Homo sapiens: one gene and its partners. The protein of the gene in region 4 interacts with the protein of the main gene of each other region in a biochemical or structural test. Each region holds a gene or a part of one and is shown on either strand. Other genes may lie near its edges. The genes, in order: GNA13, PTPRC, PTPN12 and CDH2.

Region 1 (4,725 bases), on a different chromosome or scaffold from region 4:
CCCGGTTATTGACGATTGTTTCAAAAATGTTCAGAGACTCTGTAAGGCGATTGGTCAGTCGATCTTCCATAAGCACCTGGTCAAATTCACTTGAGGAAACAAGGAAAAGTATTGATGTCACACTGTCGAAACATTCAAACCAACGTTTCCTTTCTGATCTCTGACCACCTACATCAACCATTTTGAAAGGAACATTTTTTATTTCAAAGTCGTATTCATGGATGCCTTTGGTGGGTCTTCTGGCAAGCAGAATATCTTGTTGTGATGGAATATAATCCTGGAAAAGAAAAAACTTGTTTTATACCTATTAATCCCGAAGTAATGCGAATTTTTAATGGACTACTAACTGGACTAGTGAATAGATATGCAAACAAAATGATCTTTTAAGTGACATTTTCAGATAGATTATGCTTATTATAAAATGCCAAGACTGGTCAGACATGGTGGGTCATGCCTATAATCCCAGCACTTTGGGAGGCTGAGGCAGGAGGATCGCTTGCGAAGCCAGGAGTTTGAGAATATCCTGGGCAATATAGCAAGACCCACTTGTGCTCCCCACAACAAAAGCCAAGATACATTAAAATGTTAGCAGGACGGGTTCAAAATTTACTACAAATGGCCAGAATCTACTTGTTTTCATCCCTGCAATACTACTCAAAATTTAAGCTGAAGTCTTATCAATTGTTCTTACCCACCCTCACTGCTATATATCCACCTGCAATCTTACTCCCCACTATCAGCCACTCTTGGTTCTAGCCAGAGTGATCTTCCTGTCTGCGTATCTACCTTCTCCACACTGCTCCTTGCTCCTCTATTAAAAGCAATGGGGGCTGGGCGCGATGGCTCACGCTTGTAATTCCAGCACTTTGGGAGGCCGAGACGGGCAGATCACGAGGTCAGGAGATTGAGACCATCCTGGCTAACACAGTGAAACCCCATCTCTACTAAAAATACAAAAAAATTAGCCAGGTGTGGTGGCGGGCGCCTGTAGTCCCAGCTACTTGGGAGGCTGAGGCAGGAGAGTGGTGTGAACCCAGGAGGTGGAGCTTGCAGTGAGCTGAGATCATGCCACTGCACTCCAGCCTGGGTGACAGAGCAAGACTTTGTCTTAAAAAAAAAAAAAAAAAAAAAAAAGGCAATGGGATCTGATTCCAGTGCCAATTCACAAGGATCACTTCCCAGTTCCAAGTTCTGCCCACCTCTCTCTAACCTATTCTAAAAGTTCTTTTACTGTGCAACCCCACTCATGACTTAAAACTTCTATGTTTTCATTGCTGCTATATTACATGTGTGAAAAATCCTTTCTCTACTATAATTAATTTCTTACTTATTGACCCAAGAACTCAAACTAGTCACTTACTCTGAGTGTCAGCACCTCTGTCTGTGAAATGGAGGTGATCACACTTGGTCTATATACCTGGGAGGGAGGGTTGTTGCAAGGATCAAATGAGCTCTTCTCTGCACTCTTGGTCAGTGAACTCTAAGACCCTGAACAAACAGAAGCTGCTGGTCACACAAGTCTCTGGCTACTCTGTGATGGCACACTTCCTTATGCAATGTAACTGGTTCTTCCTTGTCAGTCTAGCATTTTTCCAAAACTACAACACAACTTTCTGGTAATACATGAACGGGACAGCTAATATTTATCATCAAGGTCAAAATATTTTAAAAATCAAGGCAGGATTTAAAACAATGCTGTTATTCACAATGCTGCACTTTATGCCTTTCTGAATAGTGTCATATGATTTTGAAATTTCATTACAAGAATACTCATTGTCTCAAAATGGTGCAATGGAATTAAGAATATATATATATACATATTTTTTTGAGATGGAGTCTTGCTCTGTTGCCCAGATTGGAGTGCAGTGGCGGAATCTCGGCTCACTGCAACCTGCGCCTCCCAGGTTCAAGCGATTCTGCTCCTCAGCCTCCCGAATAGCTGGGATTACAGGTGTGCACCACCACGGCCGGCTACTTCTTTGTATTTCTAGTAAAGACGGGGTTTCACCATTTTGGCCAGGCTGGTCTCGAACTCCTGACCTCAAGTGATCCTCCCGCCTCAGCCTCCCAATGTGCTCGGATTATAGGCGTGAGCCACTGCACCCGGCCAGAATTCAGAGTTTTTTAAAAGTAGGTGGGTTCTTAGTTACTGGCAACCAACAGCCATTCATTAAATAACTCTAGGACTCAAGTGTTAGCTTTTCCATGTTTTCTTCTAGCTTTGTTCAGATACACGCCTGCTTTATTTATAATCAGCATATGCACACAGCGTTCAGCCTACCTCTGCATTTTTGCTTAATATTTTGTGAACTGTTCCATATGCTGATACAATCATACCTCATTTTAAAAGACAAGAAAATACACCAAATGCATTAACGTGCTGTACTTTACATTAACATTCCCCTACTAGTGGTCATTAAGGTTGTTTCCAATTTTTAGCCATAATTAACAGAAATACTGCAATTAAAATTCTCATGCACATTTTTTTTTTCCTTTGGACTATTTCCTAAGATTAAAATAATCAGGGGTACGATTATGACGTTAAAGGTTACAAACATTTTAATGACTCTGGATACTTAACACCCGACTGCTTTCTAGAAGGCAATACCAATTTACAACATACACCTATGCCAGCTCCTTCAGAAACACGCCGGGCCCTGAGCTTTTAAAAAATGTAATTCCATAAAAATAAAAAGTTCTCTATTATTGTCTTTGTCTCTATTAAAGCTAATAATCTAGTTAGCAATCTAAAGGCTGCTTCACATGAAGCACAGAACTTCATGCAATCGAGTGCTAAATAGTCTGGCAGAGCAGAGTATGTTGATGAGGACACACACATACTAGCTGTGTGAAGAAGAAGAAACCTGCCTTATGAGGAGGCAAATGAAGCTGTGCTACATTTAGAGAGTAACAGATGACTCTAAGGCAATGGCTTTCAAAATTTTCCTAAGCAGCAGAAACCTTTCTCCCACTGAACTCTTCTGTGTACGCCCAATACAGAGGTCAAACAAGCGAGATGCTCTGCCTGCAGTGGGCCCCGCTGGCCACAGCGCCAGCTTAGAGCTGCTGGCTCCGAGGAATACCTACAGGAAAATGATAGACTCTCTTTTCAAGGGCGACTCCCCCTACCTCGTGGAGTCTCTTCAGCCTTTTAAATCTAGCCCTCCTACTCCGTGACTCGACACAAAGGGGGCATGAATTCGAAAATGTCATTTGTCAAAAGATTTGGAAATCAGTCAACCCACTGTGTTCTATTTCTGTTTACAAACAAAAACCTCTAAAGATACTAAAGTATAACAGATAATGCACAATATCATCTTCAAACACAAACTTCTTTCTCTAAACAGTTTTACTTCCAAGAAATAGCAGACAAAGCATTCCTCAAGAAAATGGTAGAGACCTGGACAGTTAGAGGGAGAAAAAAGAAGTGTCGTGATTAAACAATAAAAATACTTTCATTTTGAAAAAATAAAAATCATTCAATATTCTGAGCTACCAATCACTCTAAATAAAGCAGAGAAGAATCAGAACGCCACCACTAAAAAAAAAAAAAAAAAAAAAAAAAAAAAAAAAAAAAAAAAAAAAAAGAGAGAAAGAAGCAAATAGCTTAATACATAATTTTTCTAAATTTCCTAACATCGATATCCTGACTTCTGCTTTCAAATGGCACTAAACATAAACATTTGGTTTAAACACTTACTGGTTCTCCAAGTTTATCCAAGTTATCCAGGAAATATTTTACAGATTCACCCTAAAAACAAGAAGAAAACAAATAGTTATTAGGGCTTAGAAATGGAAGATCTTGTTACAACAGTTTACATCATACTGTCTGGTTGTACACTTAACCCAAACAGACTTTGTTTAGTCACCAATTTCAGACAGCTAACCTTCCTAAAAACATATAAAACGTCTGCTCTGTCACAGACTGCTAAATCTGCAAAGGCAGGCTGATTTCACAAATGCTTAATAGAATCAATATCCCAAGTGATCATCTGCTTGGACAGGATTACACGCATGCTTTTTGCTATAACTACGTATCCACAGTGAAGACATATAATTAGAAGATGAAAACTGCTTTTGAGATAAAACATAAATCTACATATAAAATTTAAGTGACAGTCTTTTTGTCTACATTTTCTAGCTTAATAGTGACGATAGTTATCTTCAGAGACAAACCAAACCAGAGATGAGGTAAGAATACTGTACAAAATCCCCCAACCACAGGCATGGACAGGCGTGCCTTGCTCAGGAAGGCCCTGGATAGTGCTGCCAGCTTCACATCTCCAACAGGTCTTTTCCCGAGTGGCCTATCCTTTCTGAGCCCAGTTTTCTCGACGAAACTTCCAAGCAATTTCAAACATCTAAACTGTACGAGAATACATTCCTAACATGAAAACGCTTGACCAGAGCACACAGAGAAGAGGGGAACTATTTTGGGAAAGAAGGGGTCTGTGTCCGAGTCTCCTAGTCCTCACCCCCTGCGTTTCACTTTCCCGCGGGATTCTACAGCTGCAGCATTGTCCCTGCCTGAAGCTACTTCCAAGTGTTCCTGAAGCAGCACCTCATTTAGTATGCCTGGGCATCATGTGAAGATCTCCTCACACTGCAGGCTCCGGTTTAGTAGGTCTGGGTGGGACCCCAGTTTCTGCAATTCAAGGAGTGCCTGGGACCACACTTTGAGTCACAAAGCTTGAAAGTAGCAGTTCTATAATTTTTTGGTCTCAA
Region 2 (4,725 bases), on a different chromosome or scaffold from region 4:
AGCCTGGGTGACAGAGCAGGACTCCCTCTCAAAACAAAAAACAACAACAAAACAAACAAACAAAACAAAACAAAACAAAACAAAAAAAGAATATGAGGCCGTTTGTCAACATCATATTAAAAAATTAACTATGGAAATTTCTATTTAACAGGAATAAAAGTGACAGATACATTTGTTTAAAAATAAAAAGGGGAATTATGTAAGACAAAGTGCTGTGAAGAAAACTAAAAGGCAAATTATAAACTGATAACATTTTTACGCATGTGACAAAGAGTTTAATATCATTAATATTCAAGGCATTTCTCCGGAGAAAACTGGATAAAAGAGGCAAAGAATAACACAAAGAACAATAAGTAAAGAAACTTCATTAAAAGAAAGATATCAATACCATATTTCAACCACCAAATAAAGAAAAAGAAAGGCGTATTCAGTGTTGGTGAGCCTCTCAAGAAGCAGTCATTTCATACACTGATACACCAGGGCAATTTGGTAAATTTTATAGAAAAAAAAAGTTACATATCCAAAAAGCCTCAAAATACATTTTGACCCAATAAATGCATTTTTAGGAATTTATGAAACATAAATTATTAAAGACATTCAAAAATTTTGCTTTACCAATAAGTGTGTTATCGGAATGTTGTTTATATTAGAGACCAACATAGTTATAGTTAATAGAATGTGATAAAGCCATACATAGAATATTATACAGGCATTAAAAACTACATAGTAGTTAAATATTTAACATAGAAAGGTGTGTGTGATATAGTGATATATTAAAAATACAGTTTTAAAACTGTATTTTGAAAACTGTGTACTCAGAATGTTGATAATACGTGTTAAGTGCATATAAATGTGTATATTATGAAGTTACATGTACAAAATACGATCAGTAGACAGTGAGATAATGAGTGTTTTAAATTCTGTATGCTCACTAGTATTGTCTAGTGTTTATTTCAAATATTTCCTAACCTCAAGGTACCTGTGAAATTTTGCAATTGAAAAATTCCACATTAATAAAGATAAAAAGCCAAAGTAAAGAAAAGGTAGATTTGGTAAAGTAATAATCTGTTGTGCATAAAGTGTTGTGCTTCTTAACACAGAAGCAATAATTTAGCTATAATTAAGTCATATTGAAGTTCTAAAATATTCCAATGAAACATTTGCTTTAAACCACTGACTTGAGCTATAGGAATAAAAATTTTAGAGTCAAATATTTGAGACTCTTTAAGTGTGATTCCATTACACATCAGAGCTTCTCAATCTCATGTGAGCAGTGGTCTTAAAGTTATTTAAGTACTATGAATCAATCATTATAATGTAGTTGGTACTATAGTAATGTAGAGAGCATACTTTTACCTTAAAAGTGTAGTCTGTTGAATATTGAAGATCTTTTACACGGAAATCGCAATTCTTATGCGACTCATTTCTAACCAGAGTATTTCCAGCTTCAACTTCCAAATGGTAACGTTCATGGGGGCCATTACGGTCCCTGGGAGGCCTACACTTGACATGCATACTATTATCTGATGTCATGGAGACAGTCATGTTCCAGACCTGGCTTGGAGCTATCAAAATGAAGAAAGATTTGTTATTAATAATTTAATAGATGCATATGTAAATTACTTGACAATACTTGGATATAGTATAAAGTATTTTAAGTGTTAGCTTGGGGGTTATAAATAAGGAAGTTATGATAGTACATAAATTAAAAAACAATATCAAAACCCTGAAGAATAAATCACTCATTTATTCAGTAAGTATTAGCATATAGGTTGTACATGAAGCCATGAGAGTTATTGCAATCCCTGAAGGAGACTGTGTAGAATTAGAGAATAGAGAAAAAGGGAAGGGAGTGGGGAAGAGGGGGAAGTTTGGGGAGAGGAGAGGAAAAATGTTGTTGATTGGGAAACCTCCAAGTCCTATTACACAATCTAGACCCTTCTTTCCCGGAGTGCTAATGTTATCCTGGTAAACACCTAGATGGGTTCTTCAGGAACAGAAACAAATTGTCTTCTTTTTCTGTGATACAGAAACTCAGGAAAACAACAAAAGCATAGAGCTCCAGGACCAGAACTTTTCAAACCAAAACCTAAATGACCTTAAAAGTGTCTTATATTCAGCCCCAAATAGCACAATATTTCTTCACAAGTCTAGTGCCCGTTAGGGTCTCTGGAGCTATAGATGCTGCCTTAAAACACGGCATTTCTTCTTCCCTGTCCTCGATGGAGGTTAACATGTGCCCCAGAAGCAGATCTAACTTTGGGCCTGGAAACTATGGAGAGATTATACTAGTGGCAAGAGCCAAATGCCATTGAAAGGAAACCTTAAATGGATAATGTGACATAAAATAGAATAGTAAGTAGTTGAGGGTAACGAAGAGAAGAAAATGCTAATAAAATATTACATTTTATGAAATGTTTTATCAGATGAACAGAGGTTAGTAGGCTAATGCTTTATGAGACATTGTTAGGTTTCTGATTACAATTAATATTTCCAGATAGTAAAGACAACAGCAAACAGTGAATGTTTTAATCTAAGTTGGTTAAGTACTTAACTGCATGAAATTGCACAAACTGATGCCAATTAAGATGCTTTTATGCTTTGTCCTTAAAATTCTATGACTATATCTGAAGAAGAGAGAGAATCCAGGATAACGGTTTTTAAACTTTTAGATTTTACGTGTTTATAAGCCCTAGATGTTAACAAATGTGCCAGGTAAATGTGCTTGCTAGAATAAAGATAGAAATATTGTAGGCTAAAAAGTTCATACCTTGCTTTTTACCATTTATGGAAAGAAGCATTAAAACATATAACTTACGAGCACTTTTAGTTGTGAAATGACACATTGCAGCACTTCCATTACGTTGCACTTTTGCAATGATGTAGGCATGTAATGATAAAACATATTTCGTATAAGGTTTTAAATTTTGCAAATCATATTTGATCAGGTTTTTATCCAGATTGAGGCAATCTTTTTCTGAGGAAAAATGTGAAAAAAAATTAGTAAGTCGTTAAAAGTCAGTACTACCACGTACCTAATTAATTTGGTCTCTACATCACATTGTTCCAAGTGAACTCCAAACTATTGAGTGATTGAAAAATAAGTACATCCTTGATACTCAAAAGTACCTACAATTATCAGCCAGTGTATTGAACAAACTCAATTATCATTGGTAAAATTAAATATTGAAAAATTATGGTTTTATATCATTAATTTGGTACATAAAATATTTAATAAGTTCAGATTCATTTGTGAAGACGATCTCTTTTGTTTCTGAGAAAACACAGCCCCCAGTGTATACTGTAAGTCTTGAGTTGCATGTTTCAGAATGATTCTTTTTTAGAAAACCTTTTCTGATATGTAACCTCCAAACTTTGAACATCGGTATTAGCTACTGTTTTGAATGTTAGATGCAGAATCCATTTGATCATCAGTCATTGGGTTGATTCTATCATAGTAATTTGGACACTACAGTAATTAACGGGAGCTGTGAGAATGAGGGAGTTTCATGCCGGAAGTGGAATTCAGCTGTTCATTGAAAGGTAAGTGGAACTGAATACATGTAAGGGAGAAAAGAAAATATTACAAACGGAAGAAGGAATGTTTTTGAGTTTAGTGACAAACCTGATCAGGACAACAGCTCTGGCTGGGGAGGCATATGAGAGGTAGGACAGTGTCTAAGTGTGTTTTCACACTCAGGCAGAAGACTTAGCACTTGTTAAGTAAAAAAATCACCAGCTGCTGCTATTTTTGAGTAGCCAAGTGACATCAGGAAAGAGGATGATTAGAGTGGCAACATGTTTCTGGATAGCAGCAACAGTAATAATAATATCAATAACGATTTTTAAAAATAATAACTCACTGTATGTGCCAAGCACTGTTTCAAGGGGTATACATGAAATAATTAATTTAACCATCACTGCAACTATTAGTTGGTACTCACTATCATCTGATTTTACAGATGACAAAACTGAGCCACAGAGAGATTAAGCAATTTGTTCTGTTTTTTTTTTCTTAAAAAAATAAAAGGCATTACACAAAATAATTTCCAGCAACATCATGGTGGTCTTGAAAGGTGCCTATTGCTTTCAGTAACTTTTGAAAAATAATCCTTTAAATCCAATAAAGCACAAAAGATCTCTTCCCCAATTCCCCAATTACCAAGAAGCTTCACTGTCACTTGCCATCATTAAGTTAACGAGATAAAACTGCAGTTCTCCAAAATATCTTAAGCTAAAAATGTGAGGAAAAATAAACAAACACACTTTGGGAGGCCGAGGCGGGCGGATCGGATCACACGAGATCAGGAGATCCAGACTATCCTGGCTAACACAGTGAAACCCCGTCTCTACTAAAAATACAAAAAAATTAGCCGGGCGTGGTGGCGGGCGCCTGTAGTCCCAGCTACTAGGGAGGCTGAGGCGGGAGAATGGCGTGAACCTGGGAGGCGGAGCTTGCAGTGAGCCGAGATCGCATGACTGCACTCCAGCCTGGGCGACAGAGGGAGACTCCCTCTCAAACAAACAAACAAACAAAACCAAGAGCAGAAAGGAAACAGATCAAGCTACTGAACTTGAACATCTATCACATTTTCTGTTAACCTCAGTTTCATCATATGAACTATGAAGATATGTATGCACATCTCCACTGAGTTATTAAAATAGTTGATAAAATCTTTAAATAATACATAATTAAAAAAACCTGCTAAACCAATAAAACTAAAT
Region 3 (4,725 bases), on a different chromosome or scaffold from region 4:
GATGGCCATTAAAGTAAATTAAAAACAAAAAAACAGAGTGGCCACTAAGCATTTAAACTGCTGTTTAAAATAGTTGAGGCGGAGGTTGCAGTGAGCCGAGATTGTGCCACTGCACTCCAGCCTGGGCAACAAGAGCAAAACTCCGTCAAACAAAATAAAACAAAACAATACTGTATGTACACATACACACACTGAAAGGACACATTCTCGAGTTTTAACAATGGTTATCTCCAGTGGAACTAGTGGAAAGCAAAAGAATTTTCTTGCTTTTATGGATGTGTTTTCTAAGTCCTTACAGTTAACGTACTGTTTTGATTGTCTAAAAATATTTAACGGTCAATTTAGTTTTTGATGAAAAGCCTTCCTATACAAATGGATTTATGATTGAACAGGAAATTATTTTAACTAACTTATAAGAAGTCAAAGTGAAAGCAATTTCTTTATCTTTTAATTCTATAATTAAACATATTGTTTATTTTTAACTGGTCAATCCTACTTAATTAAATGGTCAACTAACCACTGAATTAACCACAGAAAAAAATAGTTTTAATGAACCAAGTTGTTAACTGATTCCCACATCTCCACCAGCAAGTTACTTTCCTGGCCCATGAATAAAAAGTAGCCCTTTTACTTCGTTAATTATGAGCATTACGGTCAAACCAAGTGAATAAGAAAACTATCTTCAATGCTTCAACTCCACTGAAAAAATATTTTAACTATGTAAATAATAAAAAATAAATCTCTTAAGTTTGAAAAATCTCATTTACTTTTTATAACAAATGTGAATGCAGATAACAAGTCCCTTAGAGGAATAAATTGATAGCAGTCTTATGAAGTAAGTACTATGACTGTAAGGCCTTTAGAAGAATCTAATGTAAACTAAAAATTCAGAGTAGAAAAACTGTCTAAGGATTCAAGTAGCTTCTACTATGTAGAAACCCATACCTATATAATGAAATTCCAAAAATTAGGTTTCAAAATATCCTGTATCACCCATATTATAATGATACCTATATTCTTTTTTTTTTTTTAAAAGATAGGGTCTACTATGTCACCCAGGCTGGAGTGCAGTAGTGTAATTGGTGTCTACTGCAGCCTCAAAGTTCTGGGCTCAAGCAATCATCCTGCCTCGGCCTCCCAAAGCACTGAGCCACTATACCCGGTCATGACACTTATTGCAAACATTTATTATTTTCTTGACTAATTCAGTTTTGTGCTTTTCCTCTTAAAGGGGTATTTTCCATTACACTCCTAAATCCATAATACAAATTTAGCTTTGTTTTATGTATTACATATAATGTATACATATACATATATGTGCATATGTATTATGTATATTTAGCTTTGTATTATTTGTATGAGAATGACCAGATGACAGAAATAAGCCAAAATGTTAGATTAAGAAAAGTTGGTTATCTTAAACTGATTTCTCTTAGCTAAAATATATTATACATTAACCCCCCTTCTAGAATACAAAATTAACTGCCCCCCAAGAATAAACAAATCTCATGTTCATTCCCCCAAAGTCAAAGGAAGAGTTTACATGATTTCTTAACACATCCAAACGAGTAATTTTGCAAAACCTAACTGAACTTCAAATATTATTTGAATAAATGAAAAGATTTATATTGTGCAATTTAAAGTAGGTGCACCTATACTTGTCCTTTCACATTCAGAGGTAGCTTAACTAGGTCAGTAATCATTGAATTTTATGTAATCCTTATAATGAAGTAATCTACTATAAAACATAATAAAAATGTCTAGTAAATGTGTATCAATAGTTTTTATTACTTTACTACAAGAATGCTTGCTTCCGGCTTTAAATTTTTCAGTAGCTATAAATTATAAAATTTCATGATATGACAGGAAGTGGTGCAAACGTGGAAACTGATGTTCCCCAAGAATAAAAACAGCATTTAGTTTTTCATCAAACTAAAACACACTTTTTCATCTCAATGTAACAGCTCTGAGATTGGTATGTATCTTACCACCAATGGCTTCTTACAAATGACATTGTCCCCTTATAATTGGCAGTGATTTTTTTACTGTTAATATATATAATAATGGTGTGTCTTAGAATTGATGATATCTTAGATCAATAAGACCTACGTATGTACATCTTACATATATTAAAAAAAGAAAGTCATGTTGCCAGGCGTAGTGGCTCACGCCTGTAAGCCCAAGACTCTGGGAGAGCAAAGTGGGAGAATCACTTGAGGACAGGAGTTCGGATCAGCCTGGGCAACAGAGCAAGACTTGGTCTCTTAAAAAAAATTTTTTTTAATTAAAAAAAATTAGTTCAGTGTGGTAGCACATGCCTGTAGTCCTAGCTACTTGGGAAGCTGAGGCAGAAGGATCACGTCAGGCCAGGAGTTTGAGTTTACAGTAAGCTATGATTGTGCCACTGCACTCCAACCTGGGCATCAGAGCAATATCCTGTTTTTAAAAATCTCATGTCAGTGTTTATCAGGAATGAAAATTGCTTGGTCATTGTTTCAGGGAAATTGATTAAAAGAAAATACTACCATACTGACTTTAGAAAGTAGAGTATGATGAGGATCTGAGATTATATGCTCTAATCAGTGAACAGTAAAAAGAGTATGTTCTATAGCTTCCCACCATGTGAATACTATTTTCAAATAGATGATCCTGTGTTTTAATGCAACAATACTCTAAACGGTCTGTCAACCAAATGAGACCACATCAACTTACAAGGCCCTAGTCCCAAACATTGTATCAAGGCTAGGAGAAATTCAAGATTACTAACATATTAATGCAGAAATAAAACCTTGTGTAACATCAAACTTAAATAATGTATTTATAAACTTGGGAAATTCTTTTGTACCTGCAATGAATACAAATAGGAACATCTTCATGTTCTTGATATTTCCTCATTAAGCTTATCATGTCCAGAATAGAATCAAATGATGAAGGAACATCATGGTCTGGCCAGTTCACATAATGAAACTGATACAGCCTACGAGATTCCTTCAAGAAAAACAGAAAGTCAACAATTATGAAAATACTTTGCAAAGTTTAAAGTTGCACAGCTCATTTAAACTGCCATTTCTAAGAAATTTGTGTGGCATTTAGCACTGCTTTTAAAAAAACCCAAATAAATAATAGCCAACACTTATTGACTGTTAAACACATGCCAAATACCTAAGGGCTTCACATGTAACAATTTAATTTCCATGAGGAAAGTACTGTTAATACCATCCTCATTTTATAACTGAGATATACAGATAAAATAACTTGCCCAAACTTTCCTAAGAAGTGACAAGTGTGGGCTCTAAACCAGGCAGTTCTACTTCCAGAGCATGTACTGTAAACATAACACTATATATACTATTTAACTAATCTACACTATTAAATGGATGAGCAATATACCGTAAGCACCATGTTAGAGTAGGTTAGAGTAGTATTCATTGTAATCAGAAGACTAACAGAACATTAAACTGAAAAAGAATGGAGAGATGAATTTGTCCAATGCCAAACTCACTAGTCTTCTTACAGATTAGTGGTTCTCAATATACGGTCTGGGTACCCCCTCCCCTCAACCCTTTTGAGGGAGTCTATGAGCTTTAAATAATTCTCAGAATAATACTAAAATGTTACGTGCCTTATTCTTTAACAGCCAATACAATATATGCTTATGTATTCATGTTTTTTAAAAATTTCTCAGTTTTAATTTCAAATATAGTATATACTGAAAGATACAACCCCCAGAAACAAAAACTTTGGGATCCTCAATAACTTTGAAGAATGTAAAGGAGTACTGATGTCAAATGTTTTGAGAATGGTTATTGCAGGTGTTTAACAGAAAGAGCAATACTCGGAATCTAAGCAAACCATACTCAAATTCCTACTTTGGCCATTTCCTAAATAACTTCAGGTAAGCTATTTAACTTCTTAAAGCTTCTGTATCTTCATCTATGTGCAACAGACGTAACAGTATCTGGATATGATGCAGTTAGCAGAATTAAGATGCCTGATCTACCACAGAAATTCATTAAGGTACTTATTATTATTACCGTAGATTAAAAAATTAGCAACCAGTCCAGATTCAGTGGCTCACATCTGTAATCCCAACACTTTGGGTGGCCAATGCAAAAGGCAAGATCACTCAAGGCCAGGAATTTGACAGCAGCCTGAGCAACATGGCAAGACTTCATCTCTATAAACTATAAAAAATTTAGCTGGGTTTGGTGGCTCATCCCTATAGTCTCAGATACTAGGAAGGTGGAGATGGGAGGACTGCTTGAGCTCAGGAGTTTGAGTCCAGCCTGGGCAATATATAGTGAGACCCTGTTGCCAAAAAAAAAAAAAAAAAAGTCGGGGCGCTGTGGGGGGTTTCAACTAAAAACAATATATATCTAAATGAAGACTTAGCTTTGATAGTGACTTTTCTTTAACAAATTGTAAACCAGTAAAACAGGGTAATAATTATATAAACAATGCAATAACCTGCTTACTGCAATAGAATAAAAATATTTGCTGCAAAGAAGGTATAACTATTCCAAATTTAACAAATTTAGGGTATGTTATAATTAATATTACTTTTTATGTAATGTGATAAGCATAAATGTCAAGACTAAATATTACACTCTCATTTCATCTTCGTAACTAAAAAATTACCAAATTTCATTAATTATGTTAAATAACATAGTATACTATTTATATAGCTTGTTTTATTTTTTTAGTAGCTAAAAGTTGATTAGTTTG
Region 4 (4,725 bases):
ACAGCTATTAGAATATTGGCAGATAGTGAACAAACCAGAAAAGCCATAGAAGAAAAATGTAATGAGTAGGCAAGAAGAAAGCCTGCATTTTAGAAAGCTCTTGCATTTGCATGGCTGTTTTTAAATGCTATTTCCGAGACGTTAAGAAATGTATTCTTCTGATCTTATGGTCAAAAAGGAACCAAACAAAACAGTTGCATGCTAGAAGCCAAGGGGATGTTCTTCAAGAATAATAAATGCGTAGCTATAATGGAAAAGCCTGTTAAAGTGAACATCCCTTCCTTTTAGCCACCCAGTAAAGAGATTTACTTCTTTGCCTCCCACTTAAGCACTCTTGATTTGTAAGTGAACCTAAATATTGACCTTACATAGAAAGATGTGCTAAAGTGCCAGTTGCCAATAATTATGCAGATGCGGGAGTAGAATAGAATGGGAATGGAAACTCTCAGAAGGAACATAGTGATCAAAAGCACCAACTTGAGTCTGCTGTCTGTGTTAGAGTCCCAGCTCTGCTCCTGATATCTGTGTGATCATGGCCAACTATTTAACCACTGTAAATTCTAGGTTTCTTATGCAGAAAGGGGCTGATAACAGTATGTTAGTCATAGTGTTCTGAGAGATAAATGAGCTTCATACACATTAAAGGACTTTGAACTGTGCATATACCCCTTAGCATAAATGTTACATCAGGGGAAGGTTTCGTGTGGCTAGTGAAATCACTCTAAATATTGCAGTCTTAACTTTCTGGCTTTTTTTCTGTCTTGCTTAAAATACTAGAGAAAGGAATGTTGAATTGGGGATTTAGAGAGAAAAAAAGATGTGTTTGAAGATTTTTAAAAGGTGGTCTAGGGTACGAAACTGGTGCAGTTTCTGCTGATAATGAAGCTTTCTTATGAGCGTCACCTCTCGATCATTCTTAGGCTACCAATTATGAGCCTAAGAGATCTTAATGCTCTTGTTTTTCCTGTTATTACTGCACAGTAATGCTTATTTGCACATCCATTCGCAGGTGAACAAGGAAAATTAAGAGTGAATGTCCAGTCTAGTCATTTGACTCCTGGTAATATTTCTAGTGACAGCAAGATTCAGTGAACTTTGGAAGTTAGTATTTACATGAAGGGTTATTTGTGCATTGCATTTATCTAGAGTGTTTTTCTTAAATTTGGGGGTTTTACAGACCAATAAAATATCCAGAAATATTCCAGAAGACAGCAGAGTTTTAGTTTGCTAAGAGGAAAAGAAAAATATCTTCCACCTACCAACAGTATTATTTTTAAAAGGTGTGTGTGCGATTATGTATACATGTTTGTACTGCAAAATGTGTACTTCAAATTATGAAAGGTACTTTTAAATCAAATAAGTTTAGCTGTATTTAAAAATTACATTTTCTGATTTTTGGTTTGTTTTCTTCAATTCATCATAGACTGGTGAAAGCTTTCCTGGGTGAGGAGTGATCTTTGTACTAATGTTTGAGAGTATACATTTAGACCATCATGTTCTCACTTGACTTTATATTATTTAGTATTTTTAGTCAACAATGCTATTCTTAAGAATAATCAAGTTTTTAGATGTACCTAAATAAATAAATCTGTGCAGTAATCATGTGCACTGTTTTGTGAACATAAATCTTTTAAGTACTCAAGATTTATAATTAGGTTAAATTGGGATAAATATTTTGATAAGTGACCATGCTAATGCATGTTTTCCAGAAACTTGAGAGGAACCTTGTTATGTAGTGAATGAAGAAATTAATTTTTTGGAAATGGAGTTGATAGAGGAATAAACTACAGAATGCAAGCATTCTTATTTCCTGCAAAAATATGGCTTCCCTTTTATTTTCCAGCCAATCGACTTTGAAACAAATAGGATGTTTGTCCTTACTGTTGCTGCAGAAAATCAAGTGCCATTAGCCAAGGGAATTCAGCACCCCCCTCAGTCAACTGCAACCGTGTCTGTTACAGTTATTGACGTAAATGAAAACCCTTATTTTGCCCCCAATCCTAAGATCATTCGCCAAGAAGAAGGGCTTCATGCCGGTACCATGTTGACAACATTCACTGCTCAGGACCCAGATCGATATATGCAGCAAAATATTAGGTATGAAATGCTGTTTGTAGTGTTTTTGTAGCTTACTTATGTTCTATGCTGTGCATAAAATTTATCTAATTCACTATTTGAGTAGAAATTTTCATTGCAATCAAAACTACTTATTAAAAGATAATTTAAAATTCTTTGAATTTTCTTCTCAGTAAGTCAATGACTATATTAGATATAAATAGATATCTGTATCCATATTAAAATGGATTTACTATTTGAAGAAAAAGCTGTTCTTGTTTCTCTGTATCTGCCATTTTTACTTAAAAAATACTTTAAAATTATTTAGCCTGTGCCTTTATGCCAAACATCACAAAAAGGTTCCGCAGGGAACTTTCAGAGGCTTATAACATTTATCTCTCCTCCATGCATCATGAAGGAAAGAAAGCTTATGCCAAAACCAGGATCTAAGAGTTAATTATTTTCATTCCTTACCTGTACAGTAGTTATTGGACTTATGAAACCTATCTGTAAAGATTTCCAAACTCAGCAAAATGTAATTTATCCTTTCTGATGAGGGAGTGGATGGTTGCCAGAGCACACCCCATGCGACTGTTCTCCAAAGCTGGTGATGATCATTTTTAAAATGAACTTATATTTCATTAAACTTCTTACAGAACTGCTGCTAAAAGATAACTTTCTATTGTTATCTTTTATTAAATGTTAAATGTTCTCCATTTCTCTATTCACTGAAATCAAGATAACTATTAATAAATAGCCAGTTAATAGATGTATTGAAATCCTACAACTTGTACCTTTCCAAACATAGCATACCTTTTCCAATCCAACTGGTTATCTAATCTTTAAAAGTTAATCCCCACTCCAAATTTTAAAAAGGAATTTAAGCTGATAAATCTGCCAATTCAGACTCAAGACTGTAGGACTTTCTTTGCAAAGGTATAGATCTGAGGCTTGGCCCAGTGTGAAAGATTCAAGTAGGAATGGGATTATGGTGGTCTCTCCAGTGTGGCTTCATGTTGGCCATGATAAAGTGTTAAAATGTTTTAGGAGTGTTCTGTGATGCAGTATTCAATTTCTATTATAATTTCTCTTAACTCCTGTACATTGAGACTACTGCTTATCTAGAAACTATATTCAAGCTATTTTACCTGAACCATTGATATCTGTTGAAGTGGACAAGAACCTAAAATGATAACTTTCCAATCTGCTTTAGCCCACATTAGGGAGACTGTGCACCTAGTCTTGTCCCTCAGACACCTGTAGAATGTTTCCTACATGCCTGACCAAACACAACCTTTATGTGCCTCCCAATACCACTGTCACAAAAATACTTTTTCCTGTTAAAGCTGTATGTCCAGCCATCATCTACAGAAATGCAAGTTAATGAGCCAGTTGCATTTGGAACTAAACCTGTAAAATATGTTTTTTTAAAGTTTCATAAAAAGAAATTAAACTTCACTTTCATTTTGTAGATACACTAAATTATCTGATCCTGCCAATTGGCTAAAAATAGATCCTGTGAATGGACAAATAACTACAATTGCTGTTTTGGACCGAGAATCACCAAATGTGAAAAACAATATATATAATGCTACTTTCCTTGCTTCTGACAATGGTATGTTCGCTGTTTTTTCTTGTATGTTGATGAAAGACAGTAGATCCTCATCATGCATGCTCAGGAATTAAAGTTTTCTACAAAACTCAATTGCCTGGAAAACTGACTTTTATAATTCCGAGGTCCAGCTTTTATTTATCATTTCAGACAGGTGTTCTGGAACATCCTTCACTGTCTTTGCAATGACTGTTCTCGATGTCCATCCATCGTTCATGTAGACATACCTTTGTTATCTTATTGTCCTGTCACATGTTGATGCCTTAAGTCCATCCTCAGTGGCCCTAGACACTGGGTTTTTTCAGTGGCTCTTTTTATATGTCTTCTAGTCACTCTGTTGCCTTTCATATGTGCATCTCTATCAGTCTTCCTTTTTATAATTCTCTGCCTCTGTCTGCCATGGGCTAGGAAACTTAATTTTGTGCATAAATTGAGATAAGTGAGTAGTGAGCTTCAGGGTATGGGTTTTAGAATACATATGTAGCACCTTTTTTTCCTTTCTGAGTCTCTGCTGGTTTCTCATTGGTTAAGATTAATAGATAAGGACTTTTTTCAGATATGTAATATAAAGGGGACTTTTGTAAACCTGATGAGGGGCTTATTTTGCTTCGTTAGCTCTCAGTACGATGTGTGTTTCAGACTTCAAGCTCTGGAGTTCTACAGGACCCCCAGGTGCAGACTCCGGCTTTCCCACTTTGAATCTGTGGGATTGCCATGAGGTTTTAAATATATCTGTTTCCTTTTTTTGTTAAATAGATACGTATCAGCACCTAACTCAGTGTTTTAACTAAAATGTAATGACTTCTACATATATATGAAGCATTTGAAACAGTGGCTGACACGAACTAACCACTCAACTAAGTATTCCTATTGCGTATTAATAGTTTCAAAACTGAACCACAACTATATTTTAAAATATTTTCAGTATTAAACTATGAATATGAATGTTGGTACTTAATAAAAAATAGCAGGCTTCAATTTGGTGGTTGAAGTTGGTGTTTGCAATTTTCAAATTGTAAAATATTTTGCATTACTAAAATAAGACATATCAATACTTT

The links.
Region 1: the proteins of CDH2 (region 4) and GNA13 form a complex in vitro, tested with the Homo sapiens proteins (one study listed by BioGRID).
Region 2: of the proteins of CDH2 (region 4) and PTPRC, one has a biochemical effect on the other in vitro, tested with the Homo sapiens proteins (one large-scale study listed by IntAct).
Region 3: of the proteins of CDH2 (region 4) and PTPN12, one has a biochemical effect on the other in vitro, tested with the Homo sapiens proteins (one large-scale study listed by IntAct).

What each region holds. Positions count from the first base shown.
Region 1 is NC_000017.11:65,014,553-65,019,277, forward strand, and holds part of GNA13 (guanine nucleotide-binding protein subunit alpha-13), read right to left. Parts: intron 3,752-4,725; coding exon 3,701-3,751; intron 278-3,700; coding exon 1-277. UniProt on the Homo sapiens protein: Guanine nucleotide-binding proteins (G proteins) are involved as modulators or transducers in various transmembrane signaling systems.
Region 2 is NC_000001.11:198,714,934-198,719,658, reverse strand, and holds part of PTPRC (receptor-type tyrosine-protein phosphatase C isoform 1 precursor), read right to left. Parts: intron 2,978-4,725; coding exon 2,819-2,977; intron 1,566-2,818; coding exon 1,357-1,565; intron 1-1,356. UniProt on the Homo sapiens protein: Protein tyrosine-protein phosphatase required for T-cell activation through the antigen receptor. Acts as a positive regulator of T-cell coactivation upon binding to DPP4.
Region 3 is NC_000007.14:77,598,927-77,603,651, reverse strand, and holds part of PTPN12 (tyrosine-protein phosphatase non-receptor type 12), read right to left. Parts: intron 2,989-4,725; coding exon 2,846-2,988; intron 1-2,845. UniProt on the Homo sapiens protein: Dephosphorylates a range of proteins, and thereby regulates cellular signaling cascades. Dephosphorylates cellular tyrosine kinases, such as ERBB2 and PTK2B/PYK2, and thereby regulates signaling via ERBB2 and PTK2B/PYK2.
Region 4 is NC_000018.10:27,987,469-27,992,193, reverse strand, and holds part of CDH2 (cadherin-2 isoform 1 preproprotein), read left to right. Parts: intron 1-1,843; coding exon 1,844-2,097; intron 2,098-3,527; coding exon 3,528-3,670; intron 3,671-4,725. UniProt on the Homo sapiens protein: Calcium-dependent cell adhesion protein; preferentially mediates homotypic cell-cell adhesion by dimerization with a CDH2 chain from another cell. Cadherins may thus contribute to the sorting of heterogeneous cell types.